Homo sapiens: one gene and its partners. The protein of the gene in region 2 purifies or fractionates together with the protein of the main gene of each other region. This does not show direct contact. Each region holds a gene or a part of one and is shown on either strand. Other genes may lie near its edges.

Region 1 (7,436 bases), on a different chromosome or scaffold from region 2:
TGAATAGTTTCTTCCCCAGGACCTGCCATGGTGAAAGACTTAGAAATAAGAATACAGTTGTAATATAGACGCCAAAGAGGTAGCAGGAAGTCAGATCTGGGCAACTCCATGCCATGCTAAAGAAATAAAACATTCTCCATTAAGAAATGTTTTTTGTTTGTTTGTTTTTGCTTCTTTTTTTCTTCTTCCCCCTGGTAGAGACAGGGTCTCTCTCTGTTGCCCAGGTTGGAGTGCAGAGGCTCTTCACAGGTGAGATCATAGCTCACTGCAGTCTCTAACTCCTGGCCTCAGGAGATCCTCCCCCTTCAGCCTCCTAAGCTGGCACTGTAAGTGACTGCACCTGGCTTTGTTTTTCTATTTCTTGAGGCATCTCTGGCAGTATCTAGGCCCAGCCATAGGCTAACTGTGAGATGGGTGGAATTAATCCTTAGTGTCCTTATCCTCAGTGTACTCTCCTCCTCCAGAGTATGTCAGGCACCAAATTCCTCTCTCCCCTACTCACTCTCCCTCCTCTCAAATCTCTGTTCCCTCAATGTGGTTTGATATTTTAGGAGGAAAGCAGGAAGACTGAGTACATTTCCTCTGCTGGCCAAGTCTGATATTTATTTACAAGCAAGGCGCCCTCCTTGAATTTCTTAGATGTGTTAATTGGGCCTAGTCTGCTTAGCCACGAGGTCCTCCCTGCCCATCTCCTTTAGGAGCAGCCTTGTTATACTTGTCACCCAAGGGATGTTTTAGAGAAAGTTGGTGCTCCACGAAATCAGAGACCACTGCAGTGGAGAGCAGACAGCCAAAGACCCATCTCAGAAAACCCAGGGGTCTCTGTTGGCCCATTAAGTAGAAGCATCTGTACATTCAACTTTCTTCCTCATGGTGAATTTTTCTGTAGCATCACTTCCATTTGACAGTGAAAAAACTTAATCTGTCAAAAGGTAAGAGTTATTTTTAAAACATGGTTATATTGAGAAACCTTGCATCTTACATGTGAAAATAGCCACAGAACTGGAAAGGATGGTCTGAAGAGGGGACTTTCAATATTTCCCAGCAGATTCTCAGACAGAGACTCACCTTGGCCCATTATTGGATCAAAGTCAATATAATATTAGGTTAACTTGACTTATCCAGCTGGTGAGATGCATCCTGCAGTCTTGAGTGCGGAGGCTTCTTTGTTTTGTTTGGGGTTTTGTTTTGAAGTGTTTTGCATTACCAGAACAAGAGTTCCCAAAACTCGGGAAGTTGAAAGGTCTCTTTAATGGGCACGGATGAAAATAAACTGACATGGCAACAAATTATATTTGGCAAATAGACATCGGAAAGCAGATATTCAGGCTTCCTGGGCAGGGCATAGTCCTGGCACTTTTCCTGAATGTGAATAATCAAGCACAGGGCAGATCCTGGAGGAGCACACTTGCTCCCTATTGCTTGATGAAGCAAGGCCTTCTCTTTTACCTGCTGTTGGGCTGAGCAAACAAAGCCCAGGTGAGCCAAAAAAGAAAAAGATGGAGTTGGCCTCCTGCTTTTCAGATGTATCCTTATTAAAATAGGAAAAAATATTTTTAAAATGTGGTTCATGCATAGCCACATTAGTCCTTCTGATTGATTATGTGAGGATCCAGCTGGGTATGGACCAACATGTGGTTTGTAAGGGAGTCAAATTCTTAAAGTATATCTAGAGTTGTTTGGGTCTCTGGAGGTTGTTTTTGTTTTGACCTCAGAATAGTTAAGAGATTTGATTCCCTTCTAGAAATAAAGCTCCTACTCTGGGGAAAGTGAATTTTTGGCAGAAAGTTATTGCCATGGAGGCTAATTTCCCCAGCCTTAATTATACACACACATGAAGAGTAGAGGGCAGTGCTGGGGAGGGTCCAAAACATAGGTTTCCAAAAAAGTCAAAAGCAGTGTTTCAGCCGGGCGTGGTGGCTCACGCCTGTAATCCCAGCACTATGGAAGGCCAAGGTGGGCCGATCACGAGGTCAGGAGATCGATACCATCCTGGCTAACACAGTGAAATCGTGTCTCTACTAAAAATACAAAAAATTAGCCAGGCATGGTGGCACATGCCTGTAGTCCCAGGTACTCGGGAGGCTGAGACAGGAGAATTGCTTGAACCCGGGGGGTGGAGGTTGCAGTGAGCCAAGATCATGCCACTGCAGTCCATCCTAGGGGACAGAGCGAGACTCCGTCTCACAAAAAAAAAAAAAAAAAAAAAAAGGCAGTGCTTCTCCGCTTCTCAGGAATATTGACCCCAGTCCCCTATCCATCCCGCCAATCCCAGAAGAAAAGATAATTAGAGGAAGTACAACAAGGGCCAAACTTACAACAAGCACATAAATACTTTGAGGTTGATGCAAAAGTGTGTATAGCTGTGTGGTTCATGAAAGGGGTGACAGGAAAAGCTGTAACCAGACCCAGGGACATGAGCCAGTTCTACATTTTGCAGAACTGCTTTTTTCACAGAGGCTTTTGAGGGGCCCCAGAAAGAGAATGGAAGTAATGGGGCCAAGTTCCTGCACTGGAGGGCAGGGCCTTTCCTCGAGTGTTTTGTTTTAATGAAGCAGCTGGAAGGGTTGCTTATCTCCGGCTGATAGATGTGTATTTCAGCATGACAGGAAAGAGGAGGCTCATTCATAAACAGGCCTGGCCCTCTGGGGTTTCCCACATTGAAGGAGGGGATGCTGCTTACAAGAAGTTTATGAAGTTTATGCTCTGACTTTTCAAAGTAAATGCAGTGTTTTTTATTGGAGAGCCCTGATCGCTTTTCCCTACCTAGAGCCATTTTTTGAGGGTTGCACTGAGGCCGGTTTTGCCGAAGAGAAGACTAACTCTAGGGCCTTTTGCACTGTTAAATGCAAACCATGTGTGTGACTTGAGGTTTCCTTCCTCTCCAAAGCACTGCACATTTGGCACGATGAATGGCTTTAGCTAAAATGCAGTGGGGTGTGTAATGAAAAGTGGGATGCTTAAAGTGTTAGGAGATACTCACACTGCACCCCACAGGGAACCTCAGTGGGGAAGAGAGGCCATTCGCTGGCAACTGCAGTCCCCATGTGCAAACAGCTAAACCCCTTCCCCAAAAGGTTTTTCCAATAGCAGCTATCCCCCACCCCGGTTTCTCAGGTAATTTATCTGTTTGGCACACAAGGCTCTCTCTACTGTAGCTAGGACAAAGTCTATATTTCACTCCTGTTTTTAACAAGTGCATTCAGAACAAGGCTCCCAAACTTCCAGGGTTCTCTTAACTACAATTGAAAGGTCACACCCTCCAAATCCTACAGTGTCTTTATGAGAGAAGATGGACAGTGTTTCCTGAATACAGGTGCTGGTCAGTTGCCAGCTCACACAGACCAAGTGGTGGTGATTTCATCAAAGGTTGTGGACCCTGAAATCCAGGGACTTTGTCATCAACTCTCAGGGGTCTTAGCCACTAGAGCTGCCTGTCAGTCAGCTGTCTTCTTTTTCCCATTCATGATGCTTTAAAAATAAAACAACAAATAGCAAAACCTTATTTTAGAAGGTATTCCAGCCATCTAGGACCTAGTCTAGTTGCTTCTGCCCTGGTTGAGAAAAATATCAGTTAAAATGGCAAATGCGGAATAAATGATCTTTTCAGGAATGCACATACATAATATGCGTCTTTCTCTGACTCTGCCTTTTCTTTATTAACTGCAGGGGAGACAGCAGGAAGGCAGCAAGTCCCCACCTCCCCGCCAGCCTCGGAAAACAGCAGTGCTGCCCACAGCATCGGCAGCACGCAGAGCACGCCTTGCTCCAGCAGCAGCACGGCCTAGCCCAACCCAGCCCAACCCGGCCCAACCCAGCCCAGCCCAGCTCAGCTCAGCTACTGCCAAGGGCAGGACCAATGGCTGAGCCTCGTGTCCAGACTCAGAGGGCTGGATTTTGGTTCCCTTGTAAAGACAGAGTGAATTTCAGTATAAAGATCACCCGTTGTATTCACCCCACACCCAGGGCTAGTATAAACATGACCCTGGGCTTCTGTACCACACTAGAATTCATGTGAGAAAGCTAAAATGGTGGTCTTCTCCACCAGCCCCTCACAGGCTTGGGGGTTTTCAATGTGAAACACATGCCAGTTTTTAAAATGCTGCTTTGTCCAGGTGAGAACATCCATAATTTGGGGCCCTGAGTTTTACCCAGACTCAAGGAGTTGGTAAAGGGTTAATAGCCAGATAGTAGAACCAGTGAGGAGATGCGGCCAAAGATTCTTTATATCTGAACCAAGATGTAAAACAAGAAATGCTTTGAGGCTTTCTAAGCGATCCTCCTGTCTAATTTGCACCTTTGTCTGGATGCACACTTCTGACCTTGCTGCCACAACCTGTGGGGTCTGATGTGTCCCTTGATGGGTGCTGCCCTCAGGGACTGCACCCTGACAAGTGTTAAGGCAACATTCCTTTCTTGTGCCCTGGGCCAAAACCAATGCTGATGACCTTATCAGCTTCCTGTTTCTTCCCATACTTGCATACACCACTGCAAAATGTCTTAATGCAAATTTTGTATTTCTTACAGGCCTACAGAAATTGAAAATGACCAAAATCAGGAACCACAGATTTGTGCCCATTCCTAATATTTTGTTCTGCAAATTAATGTATAATTTGAGGTGAAATTCAGTTATAAAGTCAAGGACGAATTTGCACAGTGATATATTTCTATGTGTATGCAAGTACAAGTATATAATATGTCACCTGGCACATTCATTTTCTCAGTTGAAGAAGAGAAAATTTGAAAATGTCCTTATGCTTTTAGAGTTGCAACTTAAGTATATTTGGTAGGGTGAGTGTTTCCACTCAAAATATGTCAACTTAAAAAAAAATAGGCCCTTTCATAAAAACCAAACTGTAGCAAGATGCAAATGCATGGCAAATCCTGTCGGTCTCCAGTTGGTTATCTGAATAGTGTCACCAATTCCACCAAGACAGTGCTGAGATTGGAAAAGGGCACTCATTTGGATTGCCTTACTTCTCTTGCCTTAAATATATCCCATATATTTAATATGTCAAAAAGGGCTTGAGGTGAATTTCATTAAATGGAATAATATGATGCCACTTTGCAGCTAAAATAAGCTCAGTGATACCTCCTTGTTAAAAAAAAAAAAAAAAAAAAAGAATGCCAGGGGGGAATTATCATGCTAAATTATTTTACTGCTGAAGATAGCTTCATTGCAAATTATTCTTTTTCCAGAATTTCCCCCAAACAACTTAGAATTCCATAAGTAGAACAAGATAGATTCTACCCCCAAAATATTCATAAGCAAATCCCACTGCCCTTAAAATAAGGAAGTTATGCCTGGTTGTCTGTGAATGGAACCTCAGTAGGTAATCCTGATGAAGCTTAAAACCTTAGGGCAGTGTCTACATGGGAAACAAGTATGTGGAAATTGACAATCATTTTTACCAAATCGTTGAGTAATAATATGACTTACCTGATAGATATACACATTCAATAAGGAACATTTTTTTTTTTCAATAAGGAACATTTTAACTAAAACATTACTTTAGGGCTGAGATTTCCAGGCTATCTACATTGATCTACTGAAAAATTTCTAGATTTCCATATACAAACGAAGAAGACATGAGTTTAGAGAATTTTTTTCCTTTAATTTTTTTTTAACAGAAGGGTATCAGAGTGGAGGACCTAGATTACGCTACCTGTGTTTGAAAATATTGCGCTTTGCCTAACCTTCGGTGGAATGTATTGTTTCAGCATATTCTATGTATAAAAAAGTTTAAAGATGTCTTCAAAGAAGACTAGAGTCTTTAAGTCACTTATAGCTATATTTTACTACAAAATTTGTGTATAAAGATATATTTAAGTGTTTTAGATAAATTTAAGTTACTCCATATGAAATGTTTAATTTCAGCTACTGTGAATTCTTTCGATCAGTCCTTTGCTTTTTTAAAAAATCTTTTCCATCGTGTTAAAAAGAAAATTAGCTATTAGGAGATATTAAAAGATTGATGTCTTAGAAGGACAGGGTTAAAACCTTCTGTAATATATTTAAATATATATTTTTAAGAGAGATGCTACATTGCCAATGATTTTATAAATAATTTAAAATTAATTTACAAATTTATAGATGCAAACCAAAAGATCTTTTTAAAAGAGAGAGAGAGGAAAAAAATCACCTTTTATTTGTTTGGGTCTCATTGTCAGAATTATTATTCAGATCAAGAAATCTGTGTCGATAAAACCTAATCTCATATTGGAGAGTGAATGTCGTTAAGTATTTCTGAAATGTTTCTAAAAAATGAACATGAAAAAAATAAGGTATTTTCTCCCTAGCTTCTCATTACAGTATTTCTAATTGCTTCACACTTTACAGTTTTAATACAAAGTACAAGCTCTACTTTTATAACGTGTACTACAAGTTTCTTTAAAAGTATTGTTGTATTTCAGCTGAACTCTTGTATCTGCAGTCTTTTGTTATTTCTGCAGGCTACACCCTTAATTTGCAGAGGCCATTTTGTTGTTTGTTTGATGCTGAAGCTGTTGTTAAAATGCCCCAAACTCCAAGGCAGATTGTCTGTATAATACGCTATAGCTTTTCACCATGTGGTGTTTACCAGCTGTTACTCTGTATTTTAAAAAGCCAGAGATTTCTTCTGTCTAAACTGTTTCTATAGCATTTTCTAAACAAAAAAAATGGTTTTTTTCTTTGCCTTGTAATAAGATTGTAAATCCATTTCCTGCTTGTGTTCTTAGTGGGCATGATTGTGAGTGTGTGTGGGGTGCTCACACGCGTGCCAGTCTTTTTGTACTGTAACTACCTCATGGTTTGAATGATGATTGTACTGCTGGTTGTGTTAACAGAGCACATTTTGTTGGGTGAGTCCTATGTGATTTTTTTCATGTTTGTTTTATCTGGGGGTTGTTCATGAAACTGACAGATGTTTTTCTAAAAAGGACTATTATCAGTTTCCAAATACAATACTTCTCTCTTCTGGTTTTTCCTGAATGAGCCTGATTTTGTTGCTGGTTTTCATCATCTATGAGGGTAAAACGAGTACCCTTAAAATCCCTGTGGCCAGTTTGAACACCCCTGTTGTATTCTTTTCTCTGTTCAGTGTGTCAGCTATTTTGTGAAGATGCTTAGATGTATAGTTTTGATAACCACAGTTTTAAATCTTTTATCTGTGCATAATAAAAAGATATATATCAGTTATTAATATGTGTCTTGTTATCATTAAATTCTACCCTAAGGCTCATGTAACTTTTTTCACTGTGACTTTCTCCTGAATGGATCGTCTGCTCCGTGTTGATGAGGAAGTGGGAGGAGAAAGGCTAAGAGGTCCAGAGCAGAGGGAAGGGCGGATGGACTAGAAGAAGAGTGCAGCAGGAGCTGTCGCTCTTCTCAGAAAAACATGGCAGGAGACTTGGAAGTGGGTGTCTCACCCTGGAAACCATTCCTGGGCCTTCTG
Region 2 (8,220 bases):
AAAACAACGAAAAAGTTAAAGACAGAGAAATGTTTTAAGCAGTTAGCATTGGCACCAGGATTCTTGCAAGTGAACTCAAGAAGCTCACTTCTGGCTGGGTTTAAACCATGGTGTATTTAATAATCAAAATAATTGCTATTCCTTCCCTCCCCTTTTCTCTCCCTGTAGGCCACTGGCCCAGATGCTTGTTCTTGTTCCTGTACCTTGGACTCCTTTGCTTATCTTTCCGCTGAGTTGGACACGCTAGCCCAGGCCCATTCTCTGTTACCTGCCCACCCAATCAGTCCCCTTCCTTCTCTGTGGTTGTTTGGGCTGGATCCAGTCATATCTCAAGATGGGGACGCCTTGCTGGTACTTGAACATTTGTTGATTAGTGAACCCTTTCTTCAGAAAAAGTACTCTCACCCACATGTATAGATGTTAGATTTACCTAAAGCATGGTATGCCTGTGGCACAAACAACTTCAGATTATTTTTCCAGCAACCTAAATCAAGGGATACTGCATTAGCCATGCACTGCTTATTTAATGAGGTGGAAATGGGTGTGTCCACTCTGCACAATACCTAACCCCTGGGAGCTAGCATACAGGCTGACAGTGTCAGAGGCGTTCGAACCAGAGCAACTCCATCTTGAGTGAGGGCTGGGAAAATGAGGCTGGGACCTGCTGGGCTGCATTCCCAGAAAATTAGGCATTCCTAGACTCCAGATATTTATGGTTAAGGGAATAGATTGATAATGTTTACTACACAGACTCAGACTTGGGAGTCTCCAGGTAGCCCGATATTTTGAGAACAAATGCATTCCTAATTTTGCTTTAAAGATAATATGGATTCTTGCAAAATATAGTAATTAAGAAAATTAGGCCAGGTGCAGTGGCTCACACCTGTAATCCTAGCACTTTGGGAGGCCGGTTGGATCACCTGACATTGGGAGTTAGAGACCAGCCTTAGCAACATGGAGAAACCCCGTCTCTAATAAAAATACAAAATTAGCCGGGCATGGTGCCGCACACCTGTAATCCCAGCTACTTGGGAGGCTGAGGCAGGAGAATTGCTTGAACCCGGGAGGCGGAGGTTGCAGTGAGCCGAGATTGTGCCATTGCATTCCAGCCTGAGCAACAAGAGTGAAACTCTGTCTCAAAAAAAAAAAAAAAAAAAAAAGGAAAAGAAAATTAATCCTTTATCCTTTATCACAAACCCTTGTAGCAGAGCACATCTCCCCATGATCTTTTTAAAATCCTATATATACGAGCATGGTACCTAGGATGGATGTGTTCCTCCTCTTACTTTTGGGAACACCCTACTCTGTCAGTGGAGCAGCTGTGCTTTCACCACTTTACTTTCTTAATAAAAAGAAAGTGCTTTTGCTTTGCACTGCGGACTCGCCCTGACTTCTTTCTTGCTTGAGATCCAAGAACCCTCTCTTGGGGTCTGGATCTCTTTCCTGTAACAGCAGTCCCAAGATCCTAATAGTTTATGTGTAGTTCACAGAATGCATGTCACCTAAGTGAGTGGCTGCACTGTCCCAAGATGAGATGTCCCTTCAATGTAGATACGGCATATGGATGTCCGCCCACCATCTCCACTGAATGTTATCATCATGGCTGGTGCTACTCACCTGTAAAGTCAAACCACTTAACCAGATATGGCTTCCTTGATCCTTTGCAGAACTAGTCAAGTCATATGTAAACAGCAGATTTGAGAGAGAATTTAAAAGAAACTCATTGTGTTTTCTCTTAAAGTTTTGCATACTAAGTTTGCTTTGGATTACATACTTCATTTGCAAACCCATTTATTCACACTAACAAAGGCAGGGGCAACAGAAGAAAGTCTCTCTGAGTCCCTCTGCCAACAGCAAATTGTTGATCTTGCCTTCAGATCAACATCTCAAGAGGGGACTTTCCTCGGAAGCCCTCAAAGACCAACACAAAGAAAACAAAGGAAAAGGGAATTTGCGACTGTGAATCAGAGTCTCCACCAAAATCCTCAGTCATCCACACTGACAAACAGCTCCAGTAAACTGCTGGCCACCCTTCACTAGACATCACTTCCCAAAGCGAGGCCCACTCCTTTCAGCCCTGATGCCACTGCTGCTGGCTCACTGTTACACAGAGCTGGTGGAGGGGCAGCCTGGCTCGCCCTCAGCCGGGATGCTCAAGTCCTCCCACTGGGTCGGGGAGCTAACTCGTAAACAATCGCATCCCTGTAGAGAATGAAAGGAAAAGTGCCAGTCACCAGTGCAGAAAGGAGGGAGGCAAGCGGGGGTGGTGGGGTGGTGGGTGGATGTAACATAGCTAGAGAATAATGGAGTGTTTGAATTCTGCTGAGGCAGAGTGAGCCCTTGGGCCTCCCTTGGGTCTCTGAAAAGTGCGTACTTGATTAAATGCCTGAAATTTCCATCTCAGTATCTGGAGGGCTGCATTTCTGAAGTGCTCCTCTGCAGCAGCCTTGCATACCTTTGGCATGTAATTGTGATGTGGGTGTGGATAGTGTATGTGCCAGAGACTCTGTCCATTCTGACTCCTTCTTTCCTAGTGCCCATCGGAGGGGTACTGAAACGAGGATGTGATATTCCAAGATCAGAAAGGAAGGAAAGAAGTAATCCGAGTGACCATGGGGCCATGGGAATACCACCCTACCAAAACCCTGAGCTGACACACCCAGATAATCCTAAACTTCAGCCTGACTTCTATATCAAAAGGTTAATAAAATCTAAGCTGCCCACCATGTGGACAGCTTTTCCAAGGCAGCTGAATATCCAGGCTTCCCAAGAGAGAGCTAGTGTGACACAGCACGATAATGCTAGCCACACTCACCACAGCCAGACTCACCGCAGCTTTCTGCTTCTGCCGAACCTCAAGGGCTGCATCCAGCACTTTAGTAAATGAGAAATGCCTGCCCCCTCCAGCCCTGATTCAGGGCCAGTGTCAGGCGGGCACTGGAGGAATGGAGATAATGTGGCGGCATGGTGCATTCATATTTTTGCAGTCTCTAAACTAGAAGTACTATTTTTACATGTCTGTGACATCAGCATGCCCTTCCCCCAGAGCAGTCTGCACCATGGTTTAAACCCAGCCAAAGGTGAGCTTCTTGAGATTCACTTGCAGGAGTCCTGGTTCCAGTGCTATCTGCTTGAAACATTTTCTTTCTTCTCCAAGTAGCATTACATTTGCACTTGGACACACACACAAAACACACACACACACACACACACACACACACAACCTCAGCTATAACCTGCTCTGTTTCCCAGATCAGATGCCCTGATTCTTACCTAAAGAGCTTGTAGGCCGAGGGCTGTACCTCTCTCCACACTCGCTCAGTGCTGTCCCAGGGGAAGCAGAATCCACTTGGTGTCTTCTTCTCAGAGTAGCCCGGCTCTCTGAACCTCCAGGCTACTGCAGCTCTGAGTGGGGAGAGGGACGGGCCGTGGCATGCACATCAGGTTGCTGGCCTGCCTCCAGATACCATGCCACAGAGCTGGCTACCCGTCCCTAGGGCTCTGTGGGAAATCGAGGTGGGGGGGGTGTAGGCTGGGGGAGCCAAGAATGTCAGCCTCTAGGTCTATCTCCGGTCCTTGTTTATCAGTAGAGGGGACCTGCCTTTAGACAACCGCCCACTCCCACACCACCCGCAGGGATGCACACAGCTCTAAGCAACCCCTACTCTGGACAGCCAGCAGCAGGCCCAGGAACACAGAGCCATTGGCCAGCCAGGAGGGAGGTAGAGACAGAAGACGGTGGCAGCAGCTACCCTGGGTGTTATTTTAACGTGGTTTGTCTTGGGGCAAATGTGTGAGCCGAATGGACTTCTGGCCCGTCTGAGCAGAATCCTGTTTATTTTGAGGCCTGAGTTGCCAGGGAAACAGCAGGTCGTGGCTCGGAGACTCTCCTCTGGAGTCAGAAGGCTGCTGGATGAAAGGGAGGCCTTTTCTGTTCTGTCATCTGGCATCCCTGCATGGGGTGTAGGTGTCTGTGTGTGGCAACGTGTATGTGTGCGTGTGTGTGTCTGTCTGTGCCATCCCCAGAGCCAAGCCCTACAAATGGCATTTTACGAAGTCAATCGAGGCAAAAGCCATCCAGGTTGGGACTGGCGAGGGGCTGCAGAGGTGGCAGCTCTGTCCTCCCTCTCCACTGTTCAAGCCTGTCCCCGTTGGATGAGGTGAATCCTCAGGTGAGCTCAACTTCAGGGGTGGGAAATTCTTCAATGGGCCATGGACATCCTCTTTAGACTTCTGGCCAGGACAGGGTAAGGAAGGGAGGGAGCTGTCTGGACAAATAACTCTTTGGCTAGAAGGTGGGGAATAAGGTGGACTGAAAGGATATGGATCAAGAGCTGTCTTTGAAGAAACCAAATGAAAACATGATTAATAGTTTCCAATAATTGAAGAGTCGCTCCTGCTTATGCAGGCGTTTGAGCCCAGAAGGCATGAGTGTGTGTGTGTGTGTGTGTGCACGCATGCACTCCCATGTATGTACACAAGCCTGCTCACCTGATGATTCAGGTAGAGAGGTACAGATCGACCTGTCAGAACTAGAAATATGCTCTCCAGTCTCTACCTCCTCTGGGTAGTTGCTTAGGTGTAGAGAGGATGGAGTTGCAGTTTGTTCCCCACACTCCCCACAGAGCATGGGGGTGTGGGGAAGCCATCCATGTGCCTTCTGAAGGGATGAGCCTTGGAGAAGGAGCTCGTGTCCTGTACTAAAGAGCTAGAGGCTCAATCATCACAGAACTCCAATCACGGATAAGCAGCAGCTCCCAAAAGGGACTTGAATATACAGAAAATGTTGATTTCTTGAGACCCTATTAATTGGAACCCTCATGAACTACCACTTCTACACCTGCAAAGGATACTGATAATTTGCTTTAAAACATAATAATCTTCCTGAGTATCTGCAAGTTTCCAAAGGGCCTTCTGAATCCTTAAAGAAAATATTTTGGACAATGGTTTTCCAAGTATTAAAGAATCATTATGCTAGATGTAGTATGCATGTTAACCCTTTTTAACTACGTGAAATGATAGACTTGAAAGTTAGAAAATACCCTAAAAATCCTAAGGACAGAGATGCAGACTCAGAGACTCACTCAGGTGGTACCCTTAGTTAAAGTCCTCATTGTGACTAAAACCAGGTCTCCCTGCTTTAGGTTAACCCCGTGTTAACCTGCCTGCACTGTGTGGTTGGCCATTGTTGGGCAATTCAGCCCAAGGGCTCCAGATTCCCCCCCTCCTAGTGGAAATTAATGAGACTTTCCTACTCATATCTTCCCTGCAAACTCACAGGATTATCATGACAATCAAATGTGTCCAAGTGTGTTCGAGCACCTTGAACGCAGGGAATGCAAATGCAAGTCATTATTTTATTTTATTTCTCCATTATGTCCAGTTGTGAAACCCTGTTTAAACACACACACTCACACACACATACACACACAGCTTTTAGGCAAATATAATCCCTAGCTACTGACATATGCTAATTTATCTACTGCATATTGGGTGTTTGGCAATATTACTGTCCAAATACTGGGAAATAATCCTCAGTTAAGGTATTTACTGTAATATAATTCCCGCCAATGTGGAAATTTTTTAAAATTTCATTATAATATCCTTCAATTTCTACATTTATTTGAACTTCTGTTACTATCTAGATTTACCTTTTAAATAACATATATTGAGATTTTTCCCAGTCTGGAGACATGATCATGTGAATGCTTTTCAGCCCCACTGTTATTTAGAGTAGGAAGGGACTTTGCAATGACCTAGTCGAAAAGTCTGGTCTCAGAATAGCCCTCCAGCTCTGTGCCTGGAAATAGTCAGTGGAAATAATAGCCGTCGAAGCTGCTTATTAAGCATCCACAATATGCTAGATCGTATGCAGAACATGTAACAGAAATCATGTCTTCCTCCAAAGCTCTTACACCACTTTAAAAGCCATTTCTGCCCTGATAAAACCTTGTAGGAGAGGCTGCTAGTACTGCAGAGGGGTCCCTGGAGAAAGGAAGAAAATTACAGGTTTGGAGGACCAAAAAAAATTCTAGTAGGTTTATCCACAGAGACGTGGGCTTGCCCCGGAGTCATCCACATCTAAAATGTTGTGGCTCTTGCCAGAGGTGAGATTTTTCCTTTCGCATCCTAACAGATGGACTCAATGCAGAGCACTTAGGCAGCTGCTATTACAGAAAGTGGCTCTACACCTCTCCTAAGAGCTTTAGAAGGGCAACAAAGGTAGAATGTGGTGGTTCTGTGGTTTTACTTATTTTGTGCTCAGTGTCTCTGAAAATCAGACATATAACTATCACATTTTAACTGTACCAGCATGAAAGAAGCAGAGCATTATTGAATCAACAGGGTTCAAAATGCCCCCAATATATACATTTTTTTTCTCTCCAGGCAGAACATAAGCCCTGGTGTCTTGTCCTTGATTCTTGAGAATGACATTCAATATTTGCCTTAAAAATTCCCCTTCATTCATCCTGTTTACACAAATGATACAGTTATGTGAAACACACACCAGACACATTGCATTTTCTTTCTAATCTCATTTGACCGTGTTCAGGCACAACAAATCTTAATCAGCTGACGGGAGAAATTGGATGCTGCATGCCACTCTCTCCCTCCAGCAACACATTTCCCTCTGTTTATGCCCAATGAGGCAGTTAGATGAAGGGTGTCCTGGTCTCATGGTGAAGCAAGCGCCACGATGACAGAGGGCAATGGGAAATGCAGCAGACATTCATGGGAAATTGTATTCGTTGCTCAAGGAGACCAGCCAGCCACAAACATCACCAGAACTGCAGGACAGAAGCTGAGTCCAATGACCCTCAAGAAGGAAGGTGCCTCACCCTGATCCCACTGAAATCCAATCATATGCGCTTGCCCGCCGCTGGTTAGCCTGATTCTTCAGCAACTTCAGGGGAGGATGCTTGGGAAGGGTCCTACCCATGAGAGCTGGGTTTCCTCTCCTCTAATATTGATTGTCTGTCGCCTATTCTACTGTGTTTTCCTCGATCCTAGTTTTTTTTTTTTTTTTTTTTCTGAGACAAGAGTCTCGCTCTGTCGCCCAGGCTGGAGTGGAGTGGCGCGATCTCGGCTCATGGAAGCTCCGCCTCCCGAGTTCACGCCATTCTCCTGCCTCAGCCTCCGGAGTAGCTGGGACTACAGGCGCCCGCTACCACGCCTGGCCAGTTTTTTGTATTTTGTTCAGTAGAGACAGGGTTTCACCGTGTTAGCCAGAATGGTCTCGATCTCCTGATCTCGTGATCTGCCCACCTCGGCCTCCCAAAGTGCTGGGATTACAGGCGTGAGCCACCGCGCCCGGCCCCTCAATCCTAGTTTTTTAATTTTAAAATATTTTACCTTGGCCGGGCACGGTGGCTCACGCCTGTAATCCCAGCACTTTGGGAGGCTGAGGCGGGCGGATCAAGAGGTCAGGAGATCGAGACCATCCTGGCTAACACGGTGAAACCCCGTCTCTACTAAAAATACAAAAAATTAGCCGGGCGTGGTGGCGGGCGCCTGTAGTCCCAGCTACTCGGGAGGCTGAGGCAGGAGAATGGCGTGAACCCGGTGAACCCGGCGAACCCGGGAGGCGGAGCTTGCAGTGAGCCGAGATCGCGCCACTGCGCTCCAGCCTGGGTGACAGAGTGAGACTCCGTCTGGGGAAAAAATAAAAAATAAAAAAAAATTTTACCTTTACTTAAAACGAACACTCTGTGCACATGATAACACTGCACTAAGAGGTATAAAACGACACTCATTAACCCTCTTTTCTCCAAAGATAACCACTATTCACTTTGAATGTATGGATCCTTTCAGGAAAGAAAACTGTCTTTGTACCCTGAATATGTGTATGCTAAAAACACACATTACTGTGCACAATGTCCTGCGTAATTGTTTGTTTTTCACTTAATAATAGATGTTTGCACATTGGTCTAGTTCATCCAAGCACCAAATTTCTTGCCTGGAGTATTGGGGTATCTTCCTAATTGGCCTCCCTGCTCTACCCTAACCCTCTACAGTTCATTTCAGAAGGAACCTGCTAAAAGGTAAATCAGACCATGTACGTATTTGTTCAGACCTGTCCAGGGCCTTTCCCTTGCACTAGGAACAAAAGCCAAGCTCACTACCACCACCTGCCTCTGCAAGTTCTCCCCCAACATACTCATTGCTCACCGTGCTCCAGTCACCTGCTCCTCATAACGGGCCAGGCTTGGTCCTAGCTCA
Region 3 (8,006 bases), about 100 Mb from region 2:
TTGGAAAACTGTTTGACAATACCTTCCAAACCTAAACATATGCCTATCATATAACCTCATAATTCTGCTCACAGGTATACACAGCAGATACACATACATATGTCTGCCACAGACACATACAAGAATGATCACAGCAACATCTTCGGTTGTAGTTCCAAACTAGAAACAACCCAAATGTCTATCAGGAGTAAAATGGATAAACAAATTATGATACATTTCTATAATGGAATACTACACAGCAATGAACATGAATAACCACACAACTTGGATGAATTTTTTCAAACATAATGTTGAGTAAAAGAGGAATAAGTGATTACATTACTGCATGATTCCATCTATATAAAGTTCAAAACCAGGCCAAAATAATCTAGGTGCTAGAAATCAGGAAAATGGTTACCTATTTGGTTGTAGGGTAGGTTACAGTTAGTGGGAAGAATGAAAGGCTTTTGGGGTGCTGGTATTGTTTTATTTCTTGATCTGGGGGTTTATTACACGTTTGCTTTGTCAGTGCAGTCCATTGATTACATACTTAATTATAATCAAGTATAAGCAAGGAGGACATAATGCATAGCAGATGGCTATGCATTATACAGTATCTTATTATATATGTTATCATTTGTAATACAGGGTCTTTGTCACTCAACCCAATAGCACATTATTTGCACTCTTATTTAGGGCTTCCTTTGTTCTGCTTTATGGAACAATTGACAGTGCAACTGTCTTCGTCTCCCAACAAATTTGTAGTCTTCTTGAGTGCAAAAAATATTGTTGCATTTTCTCTAATATATTATTTCTGTTCTTAGCACAGAGACTTACACATAATGGGATTCAGTCTCAATGTTTGTTTTACATTGGTGTAGGGAGAGTGTTTACTTATTTTTACTGATCTACTTTTATTTGTGTGTTTTAATTAAAGGTAAATGGGAGGTTAGAATTCTCATCCCTCATCCTTCTTCAAAAATACACACTTCTAGAGAGGAAGCATGAAGAGGGCTTTGTGGGGGTGCTGGTCATATCCTATTCCTTGATCTGGGCAGTAGTTAATAAAGTTATACAAGTGTGCTCACTTTGCTATAATTCATCAATTGGTACACTTACTATTTGATACTTTTGTATGTTGCATCTTGATTAAAATGTAACATATAAATATATGTATATTTATATTTCTAGTTTGATAAGACACTACGTTGGTGAGAGTTCACGGAATTAGTTAGGCACATATACTGCTTATTGGGGAGTAAAATAGTACAACCTCCTTGGGAGGAAATGTAGCCAAATTATCAAAATTGAAAAGGCATTTACTGTTTGACCGAGCATGGTTAGTCTAGAAATGAACCCTACAGTCTACTATAACATGTGCAACTTATTACATATTCAGTGTCATTCATGCCTGCTGTTTATAATAATTGGAAACAACAGAAGAAAGAACAAATAAATTACATATCACATGTAGAATATTATTCAGCAGTTAGTAAGAAGGAGGCAGATCTGTATCTGCTGATTTGGAAGGATCATCAGGTTAAGAAGTACGTAGAAGATGCTCTTGGTTGCGTTAAATATATGTGTATATAATTAGCTTGTCCATTCATAGACCATCTCTAGAAGGATATCCAAGAAACTGGTGATGGTAGAAGGAAGAAAAGGAAACTTATTTTTCACTATACACTCTGCCTGATCTGCATTTCAAATTTTACATGTAGATATAACCAATTTAGAAAAATAAATCAAAAGATGATTCTTGGCTGCTGCCTCTTTGTCACTCTCATTTAGAGTCTTAATAAACATTCTATAATTGATAAGTTTGCCTTTACTTTCTTCTACCAGCCTCCAAATCTATTCCATGCAGCAAAGGTCAGATTCCTCTTCCATGATAATGAGCAAAGTAGGCAGGTCACTCTTCTGCTGGTGACCTTATTAATTGAGTTTAGACCTCCAGTGAATTTGAACAGATTTTTTTTTTTTTAATGAAACATTCAAAGCCTCTTGGCCCCTCTTTAGTTCCCCTCCTCTCAGAAAGCAGGAAGAGAGTGAAAGGCAAGTGTTCTATTTGTCTTTAGTCAGATTTACAAATGCCATAGTTGGTTTTCAAACTGGAAGGAGAGGGAATCTTCCAGTTCCCTTGGAGGATGCGATTTGAACTGCAAAGGAAGGGAATAAGTTTAATGTAACATGTGCTCTAGATTTGAAGCAGATTTTGTGAAATAAGGTCTTATCTCAATGGCCTGATGATCCAGAGTGTTTGCAGGCCCTCAGAGGTAAAAATACAACAGTATAATCTAATGTTGTTTTTCCCCAAGGAAAAAACAAGAGGGGTCTCTGAAGAAACCAAGCCTATTTCCCAAATCGCCTATGGTCATCTGCAAAAAAATGGAAGGGAGGCCCAGGGCCAGGGATGCCGAGGTGGTGTGGGCACATGAGGAGGACATTGGCAAGAAGGCTGCCCAGGCTTGCGAAATTTGCAGTGGACAATTTGCACAGGGTCTGTTAAAAGGCACATGCAGAGTAAAGGTAGCTTAGATTAGATGATGCTGTTTTATCAGCTATTAAAGAGAAAGCAAAACCTGGAATTTACTGATTGTTTCGTCCAGCCCATTCATTTTTACCAAGGCACACTATACGCAGAGCCTAGGATTAAACACCCACATCTCCCGATCCTCTCAGTCCACTGCTGTGTTTACTTTCCACATTGTTCTCTCAAAAGCCTGAAAGCTGGAATCAGACCCCTTGGATTCAAGCGCTGCATGGGAGCTGCATGACCTTGGGCAAGTTTCTTAACCTTCCCATGCTTCAGGTTCCTCACCTGTAAAAGGCGAGAATAGTAATGACAGTATCTTCCTGGTATGGTTGTTATTGGGATTAAAATGCACTTCAAAGAAGGTCTGGTACATAGGAGACCTTAAATAAATGGTAGCCATAATATCAACGATTATTATTACTTCCAGTTTCAGCATCACAGAGAATCATTTTTAAGTAGGAAAGCCTGCATGGGAGGCATCTGCATTGCAACACTCGCTTGGTTCTGGGTGCCACATTAAGTCCGAGATAAGAAATCACTTTCGCATAAAGAAAGGCCTCTAACAACTTCTCAGCTGGCGCTGGAGGAGCTCTCTCACACAGGTGGAGTTCAAAGGGAGGTGGCACGACCCGACACCAATGCTGAAAGCAGACTCCTGCGTGGAGTGGAGGCATGGCCTAGATGACCTTTAAAATGCTAAAAAGTCTATGATTTTGAGACCTTTGAGACTAGCAGCCTTGGGGGCAGTCACTTTGCTTAGCTTAGTGGCCGGCTTTATGGTCACCTTGGACGTGAAGAGCATAGTTCTGTCTGAACTTTGCTCCAGTTCTATGTAAGAGGACAAGCTCTGGTGTCACAGCTAAAACTTCCAAATACTCAAGTTGGAGGGGACTTTGAATTTATTTGTGAACAGACAATTGCACACTTGAAAATGCCAACACATAAGGGAACACACTCAGCTTTGCTAACTAACAAGATTGAGCTCATTACAAACTCTCCAGCCAGGGGATATTTCATTCTTAAAAGAGGAGTAGAAATCCTGTGTGTGTGTGTTTGGGGGGCTGGGGAGGGGAGAAGAATATATCAGTCAACATTGTTTCCTCCCGCGCTCCCAAACATAGGCTAACTGTGAAGAGCCAGGACGCCCACCGAGTCCTGGCAGCGTTGCAAGGTGGGGAGGGGGCGGGCGCGGTCCTGTCGCTAGTGACTGCAGATTTCCTCTGCGGGGCACTTCCTACGGCCTTTGATCTTTCCCCAGGAACTGCCGAGGGCCGCGTTTGCCTCTAAGTTTATTCCCTCTTGGTTTATTTATTGTATCTGCTTTCTCTTCTCGCTGGTTTGGAGGTCAGAACGCCAGTATGCAACGGGACTTGTGTCCCAGGCAGGGTCTCCCCTCTCCAGGCACTACCGCGAAATCTGGCAAAAGGTACATTTTACTGAGTCCTAGGGCAGCAAATTCAGCGGCGGAGAAAGAGTCTTTCTCCATTCAGGAGACAACCCAGGAAGCCCGATCCCGGGATCAGAGGCCAGGACCCCGCCCCGGCCCCCTGCCCCAGGCCCAGCTGGGCGCCGCCCAGGGGCTTTTCTCGGTCCGCCTGGGGGCTCGAGCTCGCGTCCCTCCCTAAGACGCCAGGCTTAACTTGGAGTTTCATCTCCTCCCCAGGAGGGTCTCAAGTTGCCTTCCTCTGCCGGGAAGGGCCCCCACTCCCCCGCTCCAGGCCCTAATCTCCACCCGGCGTCCCAGTCTGAGCGGCCTGGCCTCAGCTCTCCATCTGCGAGCCTTAAATCCCATTTATCTTCTTAGCGCCTCAGACCCGGACGGTCCCGCCTCTCTTCCTCTCACCCCCACCCCACTTGCAAATCACAGACCCCCGTCTACCCCTCGCATCCCCCAAGTGCGCTGGACCAACTACAGCAACCTTTGAGGTGTTAGAAAAAGTCGCCTAGAGGGGCGCGGCAGGAGGAGGGCCCAGGTGGGGTGGAGGGGGGGCGCCCCAAGATTTCAGGGTGAGGACCGCGGAGGGTCCTGGACCCGCAGTCGCCTAACTCCTGCCCTGCGTCTCCAGTGCTTGAAGTCGGTCCCTCCCAGGTCCCCAATCTAGGTCACCAGCGGGGAAGGGCTGCGCTGGGGGTCGCTAGAGAGGGTGAGGGGCGGGCTGTCTGCTTCCGAGGTGGGCGAGGAGTGAAGGTTTCAGGGCCTGTCCCTCTCACTTCCACTCGATTGTAATTTCATCCCCGGGCCGGTCGAGCCTCCCTCCCTCCCGCGGCCAGCCCTTCCCTCCCAGTCGGCCTCCTTCGTCGCCCCCGCCCCCGCGAAAAGCCCTGCAGCTTGCAGCCGGCTTCACTCGCGCACGCCGACCTCCCGGCTGCAGTCCTACCTCTTGGAACTACCCGTGTTTCCGGGCCCAGCCCTCGCAGCCCCCCACCTCCTCGCCCCGGCCCGGGGATCCGTTGGGGCCGCGTCCCCCACGCGCCCCCGGAGACGCCCTTTCCGTGTGCGCCCGGGACTTGGTGAAACTTTGCAGGCGCCGGCTGCGAAATGGATTTAATCCGAGGCGTCTTGCTCCGGCTCCTGCTCCTGGCTTCCAGCCTCGGACCCGGCGCGGTGTCGCTCCGAGCGGCCATCCGAAAACCAGGTAATGCGCTCCTCCGCCCAGAGCCACCACGCCCCGAGCGCCCCTGCTGGGCTCCGGGGCGAGGACACAGAGCGGGCAGCGCACCGCCTCCCTCTCCCCGACCAACGTCTGCTTAACTCGCTTCAGCTCTGCCAGGAGCTGAGAAAAGACGCAAACCTCGCCCTCCCCCGAGCCCGGGCGGCGCTAGGGATATTTATTTATTAAAAGAATGATCAATTTTCCAGACATAGTAGATAGAGGTGGTGGTCCCCGTGTTTGACCGCAGAGAGCTGACAGTTGGGACAGCGATCGTGCTGTCTCAATTACAGAGGATGGCAACCATGCAGAGGAGTCAAACCAGCCCCTCCTGCGTCTCCAAACATTTTACTCAATTCATATTGTCCAGAGCCCAGCCATTTCCTGTTAAGTGTCTGAAGGGTTGCCTGGAGCCCCCTCTGCCCATCTCGGGTCCTGCCCACGCGTTGTGCAGGGATGTGGACTCTGCTCTTAGCATCCTCTTCCACTCTGGGGCCATTTGTTCAGAAGGAAGCACCCAGTGGGTTAATTTTACCGTGTTTTGAACTCCTGTCTTTGCTTTGGCATTTAAACAAAGAAATGTACGTTGTAACCTGTTATAAGGGACTGGGAATTGGGGGAGAACTTGAAACCATAATAACGTGTGTTTCCTCTAGCTGCATATAGGTAAAAAGTCTTCGTTTATTTTGGTCTACTTTGATTTGGCCTATGCTGTGAGATTATTCAAAGTAGAACATTCTGAACAATGAAGTTCTAAACATTGTTTCCCAAATAACGATTTTTATTACTTTTTGCTGGGACCATATTTAGAATTCTGAAAAATCTGTTTTGTCTTAACTTACTTTGTAAGGGAGGTTGTCTTATGGGATTAATTATATCTTATGAACAATGGAAAACAATATTACTTTTATTTGAATGCAGTCTGCAAAACCTCACAGAAAGTGCAGTTTGTCTTCACAAACGTTTCTGTAAGAAAGAGGCAAAGCTAGGAAAATTTATCAGAGGGCAGAGAAAATCGTCTTAGCGGGATCCCATGTGAATGCTTAAATATTTTCGCATTGAAACTCTCTATCTGGAAATATGACTTGTTGCATTTCGGCTCTGGAAGCGTCCTCAGTCTTTGCACTGTGTCTCTTATTACCAGCACTTGTTACCTGCCTTGAAATCTAAGGTCATTATCATAATCTACACCATATTTAAATTATGAGCCACTCCATTTATGAGCTCTTCAATTCATTTTGGAGATAATAGCTTCAGTCCAAGGTAATATCACATTAAATTGTTTCTCTTCCTGCACGCACACATACATATACCTTCAAGGATTTCAGTGAAGGGCTTCTTTCTAACTTTCCTCCTTAAGATAACCACATCACGATCAATTGCATTTTGCAGATTTATTCACATGAAATCATCTATTAATTGTCACAATTTTTAAACAAAGCATAGTTATATCTATAGTTTTAAAGCATGAACAGTGTATGCAATGCTTTTTAAAGGATATATTTTAATCCATTTAAGGGGAATTTTTAAAAAGCATTTTATAAAAACCTGTTGTATAAAACTGCTCATGTGGGTCATCATATTTTCCTTCTTATTTTTTGGAGTTCTTCTCCTAAAAAGATTTTCTACCTGGTTCATTCAGGGTCTCATTCTGATATTCATGCCAGGAATATGCCATGCTGGCCTCTTTGGTTTTATTTGAAGCATAGATAGGGTTTTGATAGTGGAAACACCACCTCTTAAATACTTTGGCATATTAATTACATCAAATTTGAGATAGAAGTGTTTAGACTAGGTTCAACCTAGAAGAGTTTTATTTTTATTACTTTATAATTTTATCCAGACACTAGCTTTCAGGTTGGAAAGCTTCTCAGATTAAAATGACAGCTACTTCATAACTTCAGGGGAAATTTCCCTCCTGGGCTCATTTACATCCCTTGGAAAGACTAGTTTTTGATCCGGAAAATTGGTCCAGATTAAAAAACTGAATGTGCCCTGCTTGGCTCTGATGTGAGCAGCAACTAGCTAATTTATAATCTTCCCCAGACACTAGCAAATCCTGCTAGTATCCATATGGGAGTTTCTTTGTACCTTGTTTCCTCAACAGAAATTGGTACATAGACAGTACTTTGAAGGTATCGTGGCCACGGTGCAGGCATACTGGAGCGGTTCTGTCTTATTTGGATGACCCTCCCTATCTCCTCATACTCCTAAATCTACTTTTGATAAGTATAGCATTGTTGGAGAAGTCTTGGATTCAAAATCAACCTGGAAATTCCCCATCCGCACCTACCTCTGGTGAGAAAAAACTGAGTAGCAGCTTCAAGTCTGAGTCTAGTTTGGGTTCAACACAAGCAACCTTTCTCTTCACCCCAAGATAGCTCATCTTTTGACATTGAACATTAATAAAGAAACCTCTGCATTTGCCAAGACTTACAAGAAATGACAGTTTTCAAATTAAGTGAAATTAAATCATAATAACTAACACTAAGTGCTTGCTACACTGTTCTAAGAACTGGATGCACAGTGATTTATTTAATCAACCCAATAGCCCTGGGAGATGGGGACTATTATTATCACTGTTTTACTGAAGGAGAAATTGTGGCTTAGAGAGGTTAAATATCTCATCCAAGGTCACACAACTAGTAAGCGGTGGAATGGAAATTTAAACTCTGATATTCAGGACCAGAAACTGAGCTCAGAACACTGTGTTTGCAGAGGTGTGTAGCATGTCTTGTAGGGTGTCTTCCTGGAGGCTGAAGAGTGGAGCTCCCGTGGGTCAGATATTGGAGCCTAGGTGGAGGCTGCTGTTTTGTGTGGGGATCCTGCGTTGCTCTTAA
Region 4 (7,436 bases), on a different chromosome or scaffold from region 2:
CAGAATGTGATACAACGAATTGTGAGGTGGCAACGCACGTGCTTCCCCGGGAAGCCGTTTCACAGGAGCCGCAACGGGCCTAATACTGACTACAATTCAAAGTCACAGTGAGAGGACGCCGTTTTCCAAGCTGTCTGCTACGAACGTGGAGGGGCATAAACAGCGGCGACGTCTACTGGTGACCAAGCCCCAGGTCCCGGAACACCATCGTTCCGAGTAAGAAAAAATGCTAAATTCTGGTTAGAGGTTAGCAACGATGGAGATGTAATCTCTTTCTCAGCCAAGTTCATGAAGCCCATGAATTACATCCAGAACCTCATCCGTGCACCCACAGAAGGATGGATGCATCTAGAACAACCCTCCTGCATGCTGGTGTTTGGCCACCACAGTCTGCCCTTCCTCCCATCCCAGCACCTGGCGCTGAGTGGTGCCCCCTCCCCTGAGCTCCCTCTTCCCCTGGCGTGGTTCTGCCTATAGCTTCAGTTCAAGTATTTCTCTTGGGGGTGCTACTGGCGTTTGTGGAAGGGCACCTCCATCTTGCAGGATTACTGGGCTCCCTGGCCCCACCCACTAAACACCAGAGCACCCCCACTCCTCAATCACTGGGATGTCACAAGTGCCCAGGGCAACTGCTCCCGCTTGGGAGCCACCCTATCCCAGGGGACCTTCCCAGGTATCTGTCTGACCTGCAGCCACCCCTCACCCCAAATTGCCCACAGGATGAGGCCACGCACATAGAACAGGGAGGCACCTGTTCTAACACCTACCATCCTGGGTGTGAGGCCACAGGAGGGAGACTGAAGATGCTGAGCAGTGTTCTGTGTACAGCCCCCCGCCAGGCTCGGGGAGGGGGCATCGCGTTCAGGAACAGTGGGGCTGGATTACGTGAGAGACTTGTCCTTTTAAAATACCTCCTTGGGTCCAGTGTGTCCCAAGCTCCATGACAACTGGAGATGCATGTAAACGCCTGAGCCAACCCTGGTGGCAGGTGGCATCAGCTTTGTCCCCAGGGCCTGGTAGATGGTCACAGGTGGGTGGGATGCTCTCCCTGCAGTCTCCAGAGCCAAGGATGGGCCTCCTGGCCCCGGTTCTTGAGGAGACACTTGGACGTCACACATGGGTTACCACAGGGATGGGATCAGACAGCCACAGGGAGCCCCAGTCACCAAGGATGCGCCAGACACGGGTGGGCTGCGGGGTCCACAGTGGGCACTGAGGCTGCACCAGATGCAGGGACAGGCTGAGACGATCACCCATAGGCCACAGCTCTGTGACGCACTGGACAGCTGTCGTCGGTGTTTGGGGAAATCGTCTGAAGGTGCGCACAGGCCACAGACTTCCCTACAGGTCCCACTGCTGATGGCGCACCCAGGAAGCACCCCTGCCGGGGAGGCTAGGGATCCGGTCGCTGCTGCATGGGCCTAAGGCTTGGCTGTTCCCAGGAGGGAGACGTGCTGTTCTGGGCCTCAGAGCATCGGGGTCACTGCAGCCAGATCCATCACCCCAGGATGGACCAGCGGGTGAGGACGGGGCTCAGGATGGACAGTGCCGCAGGGTCCTGGGCGGCTGGATTTGGGAGTCCCCGGAAGCCCCAGCCAAGTTTCTCAGTAGAACCTGAACTTCTGTGGGGCGAGAGCAGAAGCCTAGCAGCGTTGTACTTCCTGGCCCGCCCAGCTCACCCTTGTCCCTCAGGAGGAGCCAGGACAGCAGGCGGGCATGTGGTGCCCACTGTGGGGCTGGCTCTGACCTCAGGAGACCCACCGGGCGTGGCGGCTGGGCTGGGCTGAGGCTGGCCGGGCCCTCCTGCGGTGTGTGTCCTCACATGGCCCCGACACGGAGCTGCAAAGAAGCCGGGCCGTGTTCACAGCCTCCCCTCCTGTGCGCTCCCGGTGCCCCTCAGGCCTCTGGGTGCCTGCACCTGCGGGGTAGTCTGTGGCCTTGGCCCAGCTCCCCATCCTCTGACCCAGCCTCACCCCTGCTAGCCAGGCCCAGAGCAGGAGTGAGTCACTCGGCAAGCAAGTGTGGGGCTTGGCCCCAGGCGGCGAGGCCTCTCAGCTCTGAGCCCTGGGAACCCCTCTCTGGGACTCAGCTTTCCCATCTGCAAACTAAGTGGTATTCAGCCCACCCGGTAGACAGCCCCTGGTGCTGCCGACTCTGGGAACTCCTGGGGCACCTCAAAGGTGGGAGAGGACCAGGGGAGGGAGGGCCTGGGGAAAGAGGGACCCTTCTCTCCCTGTCCACCGGCTGCGCCCCATCAAAGACCTTGAGAGCCCACCAGGAGGCCTAGTTCACAGATGCCGCTGGGCCTCACCTCCCACTGCCCCGTGCTGGGCTCAGGGTTTCTGCTTCCGAGTCGCCTGGCCTCAGGGATGATTTGCAGTGGCTCTGTGGCTGGCCCTCCTCCCCACCACAGCCCTGGGAGGTCTCCTCCTCCTGAAGGAGCAGGACAGGTGGAGCCCCTGGGTGGCTGCCCTGTCACCCTGCCAAGCCTGCAGGACCCAAGGGGCACTCAGCACAAGAGAGCAGCGGGCCTCCTCGGCCAGCCACCGCCTCAGGAGACAGCAGTGGTGCAGCCTCCTGGCCCCCAGGCCTCCCTCATCTCTACATCTCCAAACCCTCGCCCTGCAGTCCCACTGCCTCCCCGCCCAAAGTCCACCTGAAGGGCTCTGCCCCCTGACAAGTGGGAGACTGGGGCCTGTCCAAGGCACACTCACACCACTGAACCACGACTCTCCCAGCCTGGGCTCCCGCAACGCAACCTGGAGAAGGTTTTCAGGCCAGCCTGGCCACTGCCCCCCACCCCAGTTCTGTGACGGCACAGGCGGCGGCATCCTCAGCCACTGCTGTACCACTAGACCTGGAACATCACCTGAGTGGCCCGGCCCTGCCACCCGGACCTGAGGGAAAAGCGGAGGCCCACGGCAGGAGGGGCTGGCCAAGGACCCAGTAGCTGTGCAGGGCCTGACGCTGAGGCCTCCCAGGCTTGTGGGGACCAGGCTGTGCCCAGAGAGCGCCTCAGGTGGACGGGGGTGAGTGGCAGGCTGGGGCGTGGTCACTCCCTCACACTGTCACCAGGGTCTCGGGCACATCTGTGCTGAGCTCTAAGCCCATTACAGAAACACGGCCCAGTGCTCAGGAGGCCACAATCACAAAACACCCAGAGCCTCGGGGTCTTTGCCACCTGATGGGAAGATGTAGGTGTGCCGGGCTGGGCTAGCTCCCCACTACAGGCTAAACTGTACCCCCAAAACCCACATGGCTGAGGCCTAACCCCGATTCCTCAGGATGTGACTTTGGGTGTGGAGTCTGTGTGACACCTCTCGTTAAGAAGAGATGGTACCGGTGGGCCCTGACCCAATTAGAGTTGTGTCCTTGTGAAGAGGGGGAATTCGGAGACAGAAGCGCACACGGGGAGAGCGGCCTGTGGAGGCCAAGGTGGGATTTACCAGCCAAGGAACACCTGGAAGCTGGCAGTGTGGAGCAGACTTCCTCACGCCTCAGAAGGGGCCAGCCTGGTGGACGCACACTTGATCTCAGGCTTCCAGGCTCTAGAACCACGGACGACCCATGTCTGCAGCTGCAGCTGCTCAGCCTGTGGCACTGTTCCGACAGCCCTGGAAACACTTGTGCTCCCAACCCCGGCACCCAGCCCCACCCGGTACCGGGAGGGACTCGGGGCCTTCCCCACCCTGTGTGGAGCTCAGGCCTGCCCAGGCGGGGGCCCCGGCAACAGGGAGGGTACGTGTTGGCCGATGCCCGGGAAGTCAAGCTGTGGGGAAAGGCCGGAGGAGGCGGGTGCTGTGGGTGGGCACAGGGAGGACACCGTGGAGGGAGGGGACAGGTGTGCCAGAAAGGTGGGTCAGCAGGAGCTGGCGGGAGATGGAGCTGAGGCCACAGGCAGGAGAGGGGATGGTGTGAGGCTGGCCTGGCCCTCTCAGGGGCTCCTAAACCCACCCGGATTCCAGACTGCTACCGAGCCTGGGGCAGTGGGGTATGCCCCTCACACCTGTACTTCCCCGCCACCCACGGCGGGCCAAGGGCAGCCAAGGAGGCTGCAGCTCTGGGCCCTGCTCCTCAGCATAGCCCTCACCCAACACCTGGCTGCTGCGTGCTCCCGCCTGGGTGTGGGGCCTGGAGGTGGAGGGAGAACCGCCCGCTTCCCTGGCCCAAGCCTCAACACCCTACACTGCACCCCCCACCCCGTCAGGAGACTTCAAGCGGCTCAGGGCACCTGCCCAGGCCTGTTCCCAGACAAAGAAAAGCCACCACAGGCACGGCAGCGAGGAGCCCAGGCTCCGGGCAGGCGGCTCCTGTCTGGAGCCCCCACGTAAAGTGGGCAAGATCCCGGGCCCCACAGGGCTGTGCTGGCGACTGGCAAGATCCAGGCCGGCTCAGGGCTCTGGGCACGTCGACACTGGACAGGGCCAGGGCTGGGCAGAGGCCCCGCATGTAGGAGTGCCCACCCCAGCCTCCACCACGGGTCCAGTCTTGATCTGAAATAACTGAGCCAGGCCCTGTGAGGACGGTCTGGCTTAAGAAAAGGCGTCCAGCCTCTCACTGGCCCGGGCACGGCAGATGTGGGGCCCCAGGCCAGACCTGACCAGTGTGGCTTCGGGTGAGCCCCTCCCCTGGCTCGTCTCCTGTCTAGTGCCAGCCCATGGCTGACACCTGTGCCATGCACATGGATGCCATAGAACAGACATGGGCATGCTCAGACACCCACTAAGCTCTCCTCCGAGGTCTGATGTGCAGCCCTGCGGTTCGGCCACCAGGTAGGTATGCCCCCCGTCCTGCTGTAGGGAGGCGTCCTCGGTACCTGGGAAGGCGCGTTAACCACAGGCTCACACTGTCCCTAGAGATTGCTGGTGTGAAGGTACAAGCCCCAACAGACTGGACTGCCTTATCTCCCTGGCTTGGCACCTGTGGGCACCTGAATAGGGTACCTGTCCACTAATCCTGGGGCACTTGGCCCAGTGTGGGTGGCTGGTCTGCCCTGTTGGGGACATGCAGGGCTTCGTGGCACACGCTGGGAACAGCCCTCCTAGCAGTCCTGCCCCCCACAGGCAGTGGAGCCAGGCCGGAGGGTGAGGCCCAGCTGTGTGGAAGTACGACTCTCTGGGCGGCACGGCCAGGAGGAGCTGGGCAAGACCGGAGGCAGGGAGGCCAGGAGGAGCTGGGCAGGACCGGAGGCAGGGAGGCCAGGAGGAGCTGGGCAGGACCGGAGGCAGGGAGGCCAGGAGGAGCTGGGCAGGACCGGAGGCAGGGAGGCCAGGAGGAGCTGGGCAGGACCGGAGGCAGGGAGGCCAGGAGGAGCTGGGCAGGACCGGAGGCAGGGAGGCCAGGAGGAGCTGGGCAGGACCGGAGGCAGGGAGGCCAGGAGGAGCTGGGCAGGACCGGAGGCAGGGAGGCCAGGAGGAGTCCCGGTTAAACGTTCTAAATGAGCCTAAGAGATGGAGCCCAGGCCCAGGACAGGAGAGCGGGCTGGGAAAAGCACGAGCCTTCCAAGAAGTGCAGAGCCTGGGACAAGCAGCCTGGCCTGGCTTTACTGGGCAGTGGTCAATGCTGTAGCCAGATCTGGCCCTAAGAGGAGCGCTTCACCAGGCTTCGGTTTACTCATTTGTAAAACAGGTCTACAAAGACCCCTTCCGTCTGATGTGTTAACCAGACAGTCATGGGAAACGCTCCACAAGCCGGGTTTCCCCGTGTTCTAAGAGCACCCGGGTTCATGAGTGCTCTTAGGGTACCGGATGCCATTAACTGAGAGGGGTGTGTGTGGGCCTTTGCAGAGGGTGTCCGGGGAGAGGGGGGACACAGCCCGAGGCTGCCCACGAGGTGCACAGCCCCAGCACCTTCTCCCTCCTGGCCACCTTCACAGGAGGTCACGATTATTCCCTTTCTCTCCTGTGAAAAGGCCCGGGGACACCGGGGATGGGATGGGGGTGGGGGCATCTGTGCCTGAGGAGTGCTGTGGCCTGCCTGGCATGGGAGGCTTGGCGGTCCAGCAGGGACCCAGGCCATTGCATCACGCAGGTGGCCCTGTCGGATCAGGGCTCCCCTGGGCTCCGCTCGGTCCTCACGCTGGGGATGATGAGCTCCTCTCATGGAGGGAAGAGCAGCGACACAGCAAAGGCTGAGGACCACCTGGGAACCACGCTGAGCCACCTGGACAGGACAGGGCACAGGGAACTGTCTGGTCTGGTGAGGGGCTGTGTGCCAGGCAGCCTCCGAGAGGCCCGCTGAGCAGGACTGAGAAGCAGATGCTGGTGGGCTCTCCCGGGCCCAGCCGGAAACACCCTTTCAGGGATGTGGGAAGGAGAGGTCCAGGCCCTCTGAGGATGGTTCCCCAGAGTCTGTGTGCCAACCACCCAGGCGGTCAAAAGTGGCACAGAGAAGAAAAGATTCCTTCGGAGGGGCCCAACGAGTGGGTGCTTGGTACAGGCTCCAGGGCACGCTGGTGCCCGCTCCAGCTGGTAGGCGGGCTGCCACTCTGGGCACAGGAGCGGCTGGGCAGTTTCTGTGCCACCGACAGTCCCATGCCCCACTCTGACTTCTGCCCCCAAAACTAGACCTTAGGGCCCCTCCTCTGCCTCAGGCTGGGAGACCCTGAGAACAGGGGTGTCTGCTCCAAGGAGACCCTCCTCTACCCTCCATGTCCCGCTCCCCACCCAGCACAGCCAGGTATAAAGCCAGGAAGGCCTGGGGGTGTCCTCCGAGAAGCTATCCTGGGCCGGGAGCCAGCCGGGTTCTGTGGCTACAACAGGGAAACAGTTAGAGGTGGTCCCAGCGACCAGGGAGCTCAGGTGCCAAGGTGGGGCGCTGAGACCCCAGCAAAGGAGCAAACAGACACACATCACATCACATCAGACATCAGGAGGCCAGACAGGTGCTCTGGGAACACCTATGCCCAGACACAACCTTGCAAGCAAAAGCAGGAGGCCTGCTGGCACGCGGGCAGTGATTCAGCATGAGGGCTCCTGGCAGCGCAGGGGCACCCGGGGTGCCACTCGGCTCCGCCCTTGCCTTCTGTGCCGTGCCCTGGCATAAAGGGAGGGTGGCCGGGTGCCCTGCTGCAGTGCCACCGTCCAGCTGGTGGCACCCAGGCCTGCTTCCTTGCCCATAAAATGGGATGACCACTGCTGTCACTGCAGCCTGGCCTGGCTGTCCAGAGGACAAAGGAAGTCTCAAAAGGGAGCCCAATATGTCCCGACACTGCCCTCTTTCATGAGCTAAGTCTCCTGTCACCCACTGCCTTTTCTGGTCCCTGGGGCAGAGGCTGGGAAGGCCCGCCACACACCCAGGGCCAACTGCTCTCCTTCCCACGAGGAAGTATCAGATCTCTACCCCACCTGCTCCGGGCCAGCGAGGTGCCCAACCCCAGGGGGTTCGCATTCCCTCTGAGGAGGTCCCCCTGGAGAAGTCTGGATGCAGGAGAGAGG

The links.
Region 1: the proteins of FGF1 (region 2) and TGFBR3 purify together in Homo sapiens (affinity purification with mass spectrometry; 3 studies listed by BioGRID and IntAct, with this or other methods). This does not show direct contact.
Region 3: the proteins of FGF1 (region 2) and EGFLAM purify together in Homo sapiens (affinity purification with mass spectrometry; 3 studies listed by BioGRID and IntAct, with this or other methods). This does not show direct contact.
Region 4: the proteins of FGF1 (region 2) and GPC1 purify together in Homo sapiens (affinity purification with mass spectrometry; 3 studies listed by BioGRID and IntAct, with this or other methods). This does not show direct contact.

Annotation. Positions count from the first base shown.
Region 1 is NC_000001.11:91,680,091-91,687,526, reverse strand, and holds the end of TGFBR3 (transforming growth factor beta receptor type 3 isoform a precursor), read left to right. Parts: intron 1-3,669; coding exon 3,670-3,788; 3' UTR 3,789-7,184; downstream 7,185-7,436. UniProt on the Homo sapiens protein: Cell surface receptor that regulates diverse cellular processes including cell proliferation, differentiation, migration, and apoptosis.
Region 2 is NC_000005.10:142,682,684-142,690,903, forward strand, and holds the start of FGF1 (fibroblast growth factor 1 isoform 1 precursor), read right to left. Parts: upstream 3,408-8,220; 5' UTR 3,274-3,407; intron 3,021-3,273; exon of another isoform or gene 2,816-3,020; intron 1,132-2,815; exon of another isoform or gene 1,013-1,131; intron 1-1,012. UniProt on the Homo sapiens protein: Plays an important role in the regulation of cell survival, cell division, angiogenesis, cell differentiation and cell migration. Functions as a potent mitogen in vitro. Acts as a ligand for FGFR1 and integrins.
Region 3 is NC_000005.10:38,253,701-38,261,706, forward strand, and holds the start of EGFLAM (pikachurin isoform 1 precursor), read left to right. Parts: upstream 1-4,858; 5' UTR 4,859-5,054; coding exon 5,055-5,151; intron 5,152-8,006. UniProt on the Homo sapiens protein: Involved in both the retinal photoreceptor ribbon synapse formation and physiological functions of visual perception.
Region 4 is NC_000002.12:240,438,517-240,445,952, reverse strand, and holds part of GPC1 (glypican-1 precursor), read right to left. Parts: intron 1-7,436. UniProt on the Homo sapiens protein: Cell surface proteoglycan that bears heparan sulfate. Binds, via the heparan sulfate side chains, alpha-4 (V) collagen and participates in Schwann cell myelination.